2 separate regions of the Homo sapiens genome follow, and region 1 is linked to region 2. The links come from fine-mapping of genetic effects on gene expression. A gene starts in region 2. The other region holds a variant in brackets. All regions are shown on one strand. Distances are from middle to middle.

Region 1 (5,365 bases), 31 kb before region 2:
TTTGCGTATTCTGGACTTATAAATGTATACGTGGTCTTTTACACTTAACCTTGTTACACTTTGCATAATGTTTCTGAGGTTCATCCATGTTGTAGCATATATCACAACTTCAGTTTTTTAAATAACTGGATGATATTCCATAAATATACTGTACAATGTTTATCTATTCATCAACTGATGGACATTTATTGGGTTGTTACCATGTATATATAAACCTTTTTTTTTTTTTTTTTTTGAGATTGAGTCTTGCTCTGTTGCCCAGGCTGGAATGCAGTGGTGCAATCTCGGCTCACTGCAACCTCTGCTTCCCAGGTTCAAGTGATTCTCGTGCCTCAGTCTCCTGAGTAGCTGGGACTACAGGCGCATGCCACCATGCCCAACTAATTTTTCTGTTTTTAGTAGAGACGGGGTTTCGCCGTGTTGCCCAGGTTGGTCTTGAACTCCTGGGCTCAAGAAATCCACCTGCCTTGGCCTCCCAAAGTGTTGGGATTACAGGCGTGAGCCACCACCCCAGCCTCCATGTATAAACATTTTTATCAGATTCTTAAAAAGTATTTATTTACTTTTTTTTTTTTTTTTTTTGAGACAGAGTCTTGCTCTGCCACCCAGGCTGGAATGCAGTGGCATGATCTTGGCTCACTGCAACCTCCGCCTCCTGGGTTCAAGCAATTCTCTGCCTCAGCCTCCCGAGTAGCTGGGATTACAGGCGCCTGCCACCATGCCTGGTTAATTTTTGTATTTTTACTAGAGACGGGGTTTCACCCTCTTGGCCAGCCTGGTCTTGAACTCTCCTGACCTTGTGATCTGCCAACCTCTGCCTCCCGAAGTGCTAGGATTACAGGCCTGAGCCACCGTGCCTGGCCACTTTTTTTTTTTTTTAGATGGAGTCTCACTCTGTCACCCAGGCTGGAGTGCAGTGGCATGATTTCGGTTCGCTGCAACTTCTGCCTCCCAGGTTCAAGTGATTCTCTGGCCTCAGCCTCCTGTGTAGCTGGGATTACAGGTGCACGCCACCAAGTCTGGCTAATTTTTATATTTTTAGTAGAGACAGGGTTTCACCATATTGGTCATGCTGGTCTTGAACTCCTGGCCTCAAGTGATCTGCCTGCCTTGGCCTCCCAAAGTGCTGAGATTACAGGTGTGAGCCACTGTGCCCAGCCTGTTGTTTTCTCTCTTGAGACAGAGTCTCACTTTATCACCCAGGCTGGGGTGTAGTGGCTCGTCTCAACTCACTGCAACCTCCACCTCCCAGGTTCAAGTAATTCTTGTGCCTTAGCCTCCTGAGTAGCTGGGATTATTGAGGTGCGTGTCACCACACCCAGCTAACTTTTTTTATTTTTGGTAGAGACAGGGTTTTGCTATGTTGGCCAGGCTGGTCTCGAACTCCTGGCCTCAAGTGATTCTCCCGCCTCCACCTCCCACGGTGCTGGGATTACAGGCGTGAGCCAGTGCTCCTAGCCAGGACTTTTTTTATATACAAAGAAGAAATGTCAGGGAGTGCCTGTTTAAAGTAGAAATAGTTATATATGCAGTAGGAATTGTTCATTTAAAATACAAGCATCTCCATCCTACCACATTTAGGAGCTATGCTGAATATTGTGGGAGAGGTAAAGATGTTGAGTTTGACTCAGGGATGGAAAGAAAGGAGTTGAGAACAGTGGTGGTATTGGACAGTGCTTTGCAGTCAGGCAGTTGCGTCCGAAGTACTCTGCTAGTTATTAGCTTGTGTGCCATGTAAGCTATTGATTAAACCTGTCTGAGCCTCAGTTTCCCCATCTGTGAAACTGGAGTCGTAACAGACCCTTCTATTTAAAGTGGTTTTGAGGCTTCAGTGATGCCCGGCCCATGCTTAGCCAAGTGTGGTGGACAGAACAGTGGTGCTCAAAAGATGTTCATGTCCTCATCCCCAGAACCTGGAAATATTTTAATGGCCAAAGGAGCTCTGTGGGTTTGATTAAATTAAGGATCTTGAGATGGGGAGAGTGCCCTGGATTATCTGGTGGGCCTCACGTAACCCCCAGAGGCCTTATAAGGGAAAGAGGGAGGCAAGAGAGCTGGAACCAGAGCTGTGAAGATGCAAGCAGAGCCTGGAGTGATGCCAGCGCTTTCAGCAGCTTTGAAGACGAGGAAGGGACTGTGAGCCAAGGAAGGCAGGTGGCCTCGAGAAGCCGAAGATGCAAGGAGACACGTTCTCCTCTAGTGCTCCCGGAAGGAAGGAATGCAGCCCTGCCGCATCTAGATTTTAGCCCTGTAAGGCCGAGTTTCAGACTTTTGACCTCCAGATCTGTAAGATATTAAATTTGTGTGTTTTTTTTTTGTTTTTTTGAGACGGAGTTTCGCTCTTCTTGCCCAGGCTGGAGTGCAGTGGTGTGATCTCGGCTCACTGCAACCTCCGCCCCCCCGGTTTAAGCAATTCTCCTGCCTCAGCCTCCTGAGTAGCTGGGATTACAGGCATGCGCCACCACGCCTGGCTAATTTTGTATTTTTAGTAGAGACGGAGTTTCTGCATTTTGGTCAGGCTGGTCTCGAACTCCCTACCTCAGGTGATCCGCCTGCCTCAGTCTCCCAAAGTTCTGGGATTACAGGCGTGAGCCACTGCGCCTGGCCAAATTTGTGTTTTTAGCCACAAAGTTTGTGCTAATTTGTACAACAGTAACAGGAAACTCATACACCAAGCACCTGGCACATGGTGAGAATCCGAAAATGTTAGCCATGATGATCCTCTTGTGACAGATGGGACACCCAGGCAAGCAGCAGAGAAGGGGCTCAACAGGGCCACTTGGTAAGGGAGGACAGAGCCAGAGTTACTGCTTAATAACTCTTGAGTAGTAACTTCTGCAAACGGTTGCTGGGCGCCTGTTCTGCGTCTGTCTGTACATCCATTGGGAATGCAGTAGAGGCCTGCTGTGTTAATGATATTCGCAGCTGACATTTATGTAGTGTTTGCTCGGTGCCAGGCAGTATTCCAGGCACTTGGTATGTTATTTCTCATTCTTGGTATGGATTTGAATGTTCTCAACAACTTTATGAGATAGACGTTGTTATTGTCCCCATTTCATAGGTTCGAAAACT[G/A]AGGCACAAGGGGTGAAATGAAACCATTTGCTCCAGGATCACACAGCAGGAAATCAGCAGAGCTGGGAAGGACCAGACACTGTTCTTGGCCTTGGGGACACAGTAGGGAACAACTCAGACGATACTGTCCTTGCTCTTGTGGAGCTTAAAAGTCTGGCGGGAGAGACAGATGCTAGACAAATACAAACAAAAAAGATGTAACTGTGTAACACCAGGCAGTAATCATGAAGAAAAGTAAAGTCGGGTAGGGAGATAGAGAGTGGCACCAGGTAGGGGGCGAGGTAGGTTACTTATGGTCTGAAGTGACATCTGAGTGGGCACCTGAAGCACAGAAGGCAAACTTTTACCCAGCTATGGATATGTTTGAGGGAAGAGTGGTCTAGGCAGGGGGATTGGCAGGTGCAGAGGCCCTGAGGTGGGAAGGAGCCAGACTGTTCTTGGCACAGAAGGGAGGCCGTTGTGGCTGGTGGAAAGTCACCAAGCCTGGCCTGGGGAGCAGTCAGACTGGGACTTCTTGTTATTGTTGTTTTTGTTGTTGTTGTTGTTTTTGAGACAGAGTCTCACTCCATCGCCCAAGCTGGAGTGCAGTGGCACAATCTCGGCTCACTGCAACCTCTGCCTCCCGGGTTCAAGTGATTCTCCTGCCTCAGCCTCCCCAGTATCTGGGATTACAGGCGCTCACCACCATGCCCGGCTAATTTTAATTTTCATATTTTTAGTAGAGACAGGGTTTCACCATGTTGGCCAGGCTAGTCTCAAACTCCTGACCTCAAGCGATTCACCTGTCTCAGCCTCCCAAAGTGCTGGTATTACGGGTGTGAGCCACCACACCTGGCCCAGACTGGGACATCTCATGAGCCCAGGCAGCACTGTACACTGCCCAGGGCCCAGGGCTGGGAATGGCGGTGGAGGCAGGGGAGTCAGCAGGAGGTCTGCCGGCCTCAGCCTTAGGCAGGCCCTTCCTCCAGCACCATCTTCCTCCTCTAGCACGTCAGTGGTGTGATGGAGGAGCACGCGTGGACTGTTGCCAGCCTGCCTGGGTTCCGGTCCGGCTTTGCCACCCACCAGCTGTGAAGTTACATAACCACTTCCTGCCTCCGTTTGCTCATGTGTAAGATGGAGATAATTATAGCAACTGCCTGGCAGAGCCATTGCAGGAGAGTAGATACATGTATTATTAGCAGGAGTCTGGCACACCAGGAGCGCTCAGTGCACTCGGATGTTGGCCGCAGTTGTGGTTATAGTTGTTAATTCTGTGTCATCTCAACTTCCTTCAGAGGGAGGGTAAGTTTTTTTTTGAAGACAAGGTCTCATCACTCTGTCGCCCAGAGTACAGTGATGCGAACATGACTCACTGCAGCCTTGACCTCCCCAGGCTCACGCGATCCTCCTTCCTCAGCCTCCTGAGTAGCTGGGACCACAGGTATGTGCCACCATGCCTTGCTAATTTTTGTAATTTTTGTAGAGACAAGGTCTGGCTATGTTGCCCAGGCTGGTCTTGAACTCCCAGCCTCAAGTGATCCTCCCACCCCAGCCTCCCAAAGTGCTGGTTATAGAGACGTGAGCCACTGCGCCTGGCCAAGGAGGGAGGGTTGTTAATGACCATCTTCCCTTTTTGCATGTGAGGAAACTGCCTCACAGAGACGTTGAATACGTCACCCAAGGTTGTGCAGGTTGGAAATGGCATTGCTGTATTTGAGCCCAGGCCTACCTCACCCCAAGTCCAGGCTCCCTCCTTCCATACAGTGGTGTTCCTGTTGATAGCAGTGTGCAGGTGATGTCTAGATGATCTGACAGGGAGGCAACAGAGCAGATTGGAGCATCTGTCATCACCAGGGGTGGGAGAGGGCAGTGTAGGGTGGACTAGGTACCTTGGTTTTTTTTTTTTTTTTTTTTGTGACAGAGTCTCGCTCTGTCACCCAGGCTGGAGTGCAGTGGCATGATCTCTGCTTACTGAAACCTCTGCCTCCTAGGTTCAAGAGATTCTTGTGCCTCAGCCTCTTGAAGAGCTGGGACTACAGGCATGTGTCACCATGCCCGGCTATATTTTATATTTTTAGTAGAGAAGGGGTTTTGCCATGTTGGCCAGGCTGGCCTCAAGTGGTCCACTGCCTTGGCCTCGCAGAGTGCTGGATTTACAGGCTTGAGCCACTGCACCTGGCCCAGGTACCTTTGAGAGTTGTAATAATGCGTCATTCTAGGATCCTAATAAAAGAGCCCCAAACTGGAAGGCAGGACACTTGCCTCAACCTAACTGCCTCCCGTGCCCGCATGGCCCGCACGGCTTTCTGCA
Region 2 (5,365 bases):
CGCACTGCAGTGAACACCCTTAACACTATGCTTTTTTTTCACATTCATGAGTTTATAGAATAAATTCCTACAAGTGGAAGAGTTGAGACAAGCATGTATGTATTTTCAATTTCTTAGATACCGTCATATGGCCAAAGTGGAGACACCAGTTTAAACTTTTAACAAGAGAGCCTGTTTGCCCACAATCCTCATCAACCCACGATAGTAGCAGACTTTTTACCTTTGCCATGTAAGTGTGTGGGGAGAAGCAGAGCCAGCGCTGTCAAACCACAGCTCCACGTCCATGGTTTGAGATCTCCCCAAAGCAGGGGAGCAAAGAGTTCCTCGGGCTTCTGAGCTCGAGCCCAGTATAAATGGCCAATCCCTTGCCCTGCCCTCTGCCAGCTATCTGGAAGAGGCGAGCTCATACAGTCGGTCTTAGAAATCCCACCTCTTACTGGCTAGGGCTGGCGGCAGAAGGGGACAGTGAGCCAAGGGAGGGCTCAGTCTCTCTCCCCCTTGTGCTCCACCTGGTGGTGGCTGCGTTGATGAAGGAGCAGTAAGCGTCTCTGGCCAAAGGCCTGGCCGCAGCTGGAGCATCGGTGCCAGGCAGTCGCCTGGCTGCCGGGCGCGGTTGGGGGGTCGTGACATAGGCGATGGGCGGCCAGCTTGGAGGGAAATGAGAAAGCCTTGGGGCAATGCGGGCAAGGATAGGGGCGGGCGTCGGTGGCGTGGTGCGTGTGGCGGTGGGCCGCCAGCTTGGAAGGGTAGCAGAAGGACTTGGGGCAGTCGGGGCACGGGTAGGGGCGGGTGGGTGCGTGGGTCCAGAGGTGAGCCGCCAGCTTGGAGCGGTGGCCAAAGGACTTCGGGCAGTGTGGGCACGGGTGCGGGCGGGCGCCGCTGTGCGTGAGGCGGTGGGCTGCCAGCTTGGAGGGGTAGGAGAAGGCCTTGGGGCAGTCTGGGCATGGGTGGGGTCGGGCGCCTCCGTGTGCTAAGCGGTGCGTGGCCAGCTTGGACGGGTACGAGAAGGCCTTGTCACAGTCGGGGCAGCGGTGCGGGCGCTGGGGCGGGGGCCGCCGGCGAGGCCGGGGAGGCGAGCCCGCGGACGCGGTGGGCCCTGGAGCTGACTGGCTGGGCTTCTGCGGTGGGCCCTGGTGGGGAGCTGGGGGACAGGAGGGCTGGTGGGCTCCAGGAAGCAGCCAACGCCCTGGGCCTAGGCCAGGCTCCGCCACGACTTTGATATTCGTGGGGCTCCTCCAAGTGTACCTGGGCACCTCAAGCATCACATTGAGACTCCCCAAATTGCATGTTTCTGCTCCCCCCTCCCCCCAGGCGTCATTCTGAGGGACTCCAAAGGGTTACTTTCCTGGATCCCCAAAGCTACTAAGGCTTCCTCAAAGCTACCAAGGTATCCGTTTCTAGTATCTTCCCAGTGATCACCCTGACATCCCGCATGTCATCCCTGACCCGTCCCTTCTGTAAGGCTCATTTCCTGAGCCTTAGCAAATGGTCACTGAGGCTCTCTCTGAGCCAAATGGGAGGATTTCCCAGAATGTGGCAGTTTTGGGGATCCCAAATAGTCATCACCCTAGGGCCCTCAAATTTTCACCCTGAGATTCCCCCAGAATGTGATTATTTTGGCCCCCGTTCCTGGAGAATGCTCCCTACTCACAGGCGGGGCACTCTCACCTTCTTTGGTCACTGGTTCCTTGCCAGTGGGACTAGGATCGGTAGCCCCGGCCGCGGACTCCGCGCCTCGCTCCAGCATCTTGCTGGCACAGGAACCTAGGGGCAGGGCGCGGGGCGGGGGTGACGCCGGTGATGACCAGGCTGATGGGGATAGGGTTGGAGGGCCTAAAATGAGGGATCACACTGTTTAGGAGCAAGGTCTGCAAGTATGGGATGCTAAGGCGGGGGCAGGCTTAGCGGGGAGGCGGAGCCTAAGAGCACAGTGAGCGGGGCTATGCAAATTCAAGCCAGAGGCAGTCCCTTCGCTATCTAAACCCAGGGTTGGAGTCTTTCAGCAGAGTGGGCGGAGTCTCCACAACTAACTCAGCGGCCGTCTTAAGCGCGGAGCCGGCGGGGCCTATGCGCAGAGTGGGCGGGACCTTCCCCACCAGACCCTGCAGTCCTGGAATGGGCGGGGCTGTACAAAAAAAGTCTTGTTCTGAAACTAGACCCAGGGGGCGGGGGCCTTCGAGCGGAGTGGGCAGGTCTTTCATCACCGTCCCAGGGGAGGGGCCTATGGGCACAGTGGGCGGGGCTTCACGTCGAAGACCTAGCTTTACCCGGCTTTTGACTTAGTCTCAGTTCATTGACGCCGCGTCAACTGCGCCCTTCTTGCCGTTAAATTTCATCCCTGGCTTGGATGGGGCCGTGGAGGATAGAGGGGGGACCTGGAGGAAGATACGGAAGGAACCTGGCATGCGTCGCGGTCCAGAGACCCCTAATGGACTTTTCCCTCAGAGTCCCAAGCGTAAAGGATTCAATGCACCCCTCGGAATCAGACATTCAGGCACCGATGCACCCTCCCGAGGCTCTGGCACCAATGCACAGTCCCTCCAGCATCTCCAGAATCTAGGCGTCCGGACCACAACCGATCTCCCTCGGGGTGATTCTGGCATTCAGCCTGCAAGCCAATATCCGCGCCCGAACCCCTGCGCCCTCACCTGCAGGACGGCCCCTCCCCGGGGGCGGGGCTTCCGGCTCCTCCCGCCACGGCCACGGCCGCAGCCGCTGTCGCCGCTGCTGCACTGCCCTCGGACCAGCGGAGCTGCCCCGCCCGGCGCGCGTCCGGCGTCGGGGGAGGGCAGGCAAGGGAGCGCGCGCAAGCTGCTTAGCCCAACCTCATTTCCATCCCCTCCTCCCACGCTGGACCAAAGGGGGCGTCAGAAAGCATGCGCAGTGCGGGCTGGCAGAGGCTGCAGAGAGGGGGAAGAAGGAATGGAAGGAGGGGCTGGGTGCGCCAGCCAGGCAGGCAAGTTCGTGAGCAAGCGCGAAGCTACCGTATCGACAGAAAGTGCACCGCCGGTGGCGGGGCCTACGGTGGCTGACTGGAGTCAAGCATGTACAAGACTAACATGGACAAACTGCGCTTGGAAATCAGTGCATGCACCCGTCTTTTTAATGTCCCTCTTCTTTTCGAGAATTCCGCTGAGTTCCATCTCCAGAGGCAGTTTCAAGAGCTCGCTGCTAATTCTACCCTTCAAGGCGTTTGCAAAAAGTCTGGCCAGTTCTTCGAGAGAGGGCGGGGGCGGGACTCCGGGCTCAAAGAGAGCCAGTGCCCAATAAAAGGCACGTTATTTGCACAGCGCCTTGGCACACCTCGCTATTGGGTGATTCAAGATTCTCAGCCACGCACCCATCTACCTTCCCCCTCGGAAGCCTGGGTGGTCCCGAGGTGCCCTGGCCCATGCTCTTGGTGCCAGGCCTGGGGTGGCATGCAGCTTAGCATTCTTCCCGAGCAGTGGCGGTGCACCTTCCTGCCTGGTGCAGAAAGGACCAGGAAATGCCCATAAAAGTCCTCTGCATGGGTGGGTCTCAGTCCGATAACCCGCAAGGTCTGGCGATCCCTGGGAGTTTGGCGGGGTTATTTGGACTCTGGAGCCAGATTGCCTGGGTAACTGGTTTGGAATACGGCTGTGCCACTTTCTAGCCGTGTGACCCTTTCTAGCTCTCTTTCTAGGCCTGTTTCCTCATCTATAAAATGGAGCGTTTTTAGGATTAAATATGATAATCAATGGAAAGTGTTTAGACTAGAAAGTGCCTAGGCCGGGCTCCCTGTCTCATGCCTGTAATCCCAGCACTCTGGGAGGCAGAGGCGGGCGAATCACTTGAGCCCAGGATTTCCAAACTAGACGGGGGCTAGGCACGGTGGCTCACGCCTGTAATCCCAGCACTTTGGGAGGCGGAGGTGGACGGATCACCTGACGTCAGGAGTTCGAGACCAGCCTGGCCAACATGGTGAAAACCCGTCTCTACTAAAAATACAAAAATTAGTCAGGCATGGTGGCACACGCTTGTAATCTCAGCTACTCCGGAGGCTGAGGTGGGAGGATGGCTTGAACCTGGGAGGCAGAGGTTGCAGTGAGCCAAGATCAAGCCACTGCACTCCAGCCTGGGCAACAGAGTGAGACTCCGTCTCAAAAAAACAAAAAAACCAAAAACCCAAACAAACAAAAATCCCAGCCTAGGCAACATAGTGAGACACCTCCCCATCTTAAAAAAAAAAAAAAAAAAAAAAAAAAAGTCTGGCTTAATGGCAGCCTGTAGTCCCAGCTATTTCACGGGGGTAGGGAGTGGGGACTCACCCAGGAGTTCATGTCTGCAATGAGCTATGATTGTGTTACTGCATTCCAGCCTGCGCAACAGAGTGATACCCCGTATCTTTAAAAAAAAAGTTTTTAAAATAATTATTCACTCATGACCAGTATTGTTTGATTTACCCCCCATCCACTCTTCCCAAATGATTCTGAAGCTAAATGTCAAACATCATATCTCATAAATATCTTTTTATTACACTTGATTTGCTTGACTTAAGATCTAAATGAGCTCCACACATTGTATTAGTTTGAAGTGACACTTCGGTCTCTCTCTCTCTCTTTTTTTTGAGATGGAATCTCGCTGTGTCCCCCAGGCTGGAGTGCAGTGGCGCAATCTTGGCTCACTGCAACCTCTGCCTCCCGAGTTCAAGCGATTCTCCTGCTTCAGCCTCCCAAGTAGCTGGGATTACAGGTGTTCACCACAACACCCAGCTAATTTTTGTATTTTTAGTAGAGACAGGGTTTCACCATGTTGGCCAGGCTGGTCTCGATCTCCTGACCTCGTGATCCACCCGTCTTGGCCTCCCAAAGTGCTGGGATTACAGGGGTGAGCCACTGTGCCCACCTCTTTCTTTTTTTGCACGGAGTCTTGCTCTGTCACCCAAGCTGGTGTGCAGTGGCGAGATATCAGCCCACTGTAACCTCCACCTCCCAGGTTCAAGTGATTCTCCTGCTTCAACGTCCTGAGTAGCTGGGATTACAGGTGCCCGTCACCACGCCTGGCTAATTTTTTTTTTTTTTTTTGTATTTTTGGTAAAGATGGAGTTTCACCATGTTGGCCAGGCTGGTCTCAAACTCCTGACCTCAGGTGATCCGCCCACTTCGGCCTCCCATGGTGCTGGGATTTCAGGTGTGAGCCACCGCGCCCAACCTCTAGGGCCACAGCTATTTTCAAGAACCATGATTTTAAGAAGGCAGAGTAGAAGCCAGAAGACCAGTGAGGGTATTGTTATATATTAATTACAGTATTAATTGCTAGCACTTATTATACACTGGAAACTGTCCTTATGTGCATTAATTTATTTAATCCCCATAGCAATGTTTTAAGAGGAGGTGCTACTATC

Evidence for each region. PIP is the estimated chance that this variant, and not a neighbour inherited with it, causes the effect.
Region 1: its variant is fine-mapped to the expression of ZNF575 in whole blood (INTERVAL, PIP above 0.99).

What each region holds. Positions count from the first base shown.
Region 1 is chr19:43,561,749-43,567,113 of GRCh38, reverse strand. All of the region lies in intron 2 of XRCC1 (X-ray repair cross complementing 1), which reads left to right. Among named protein-coding and RNA genes, the nearest start is that of XRCC1, 11 kb to the left of the region's middle. RefSeq lists an enhancer at 3,529-4,029. The variant G/A (reference allele first, on the strand shown) is at 3,073.
Region 2 is chr19:43,530,805-43,536,169 of GRCh38, reverse strand. ZNF575 (zinc finger protein 575) reads right to left here and starts at 2,982. Exons shown (of 4, transcript NM_174945.3): 1 at 2,649-2,982; 2 at 2,268-2,375; 3 at 1,669-1,833; 4 at 83-1,141. The coding sequence starts at 1,747. The coding sequence ends at 483. RefSeq lists silencers at 2,567-2,876, 4,844-5,015.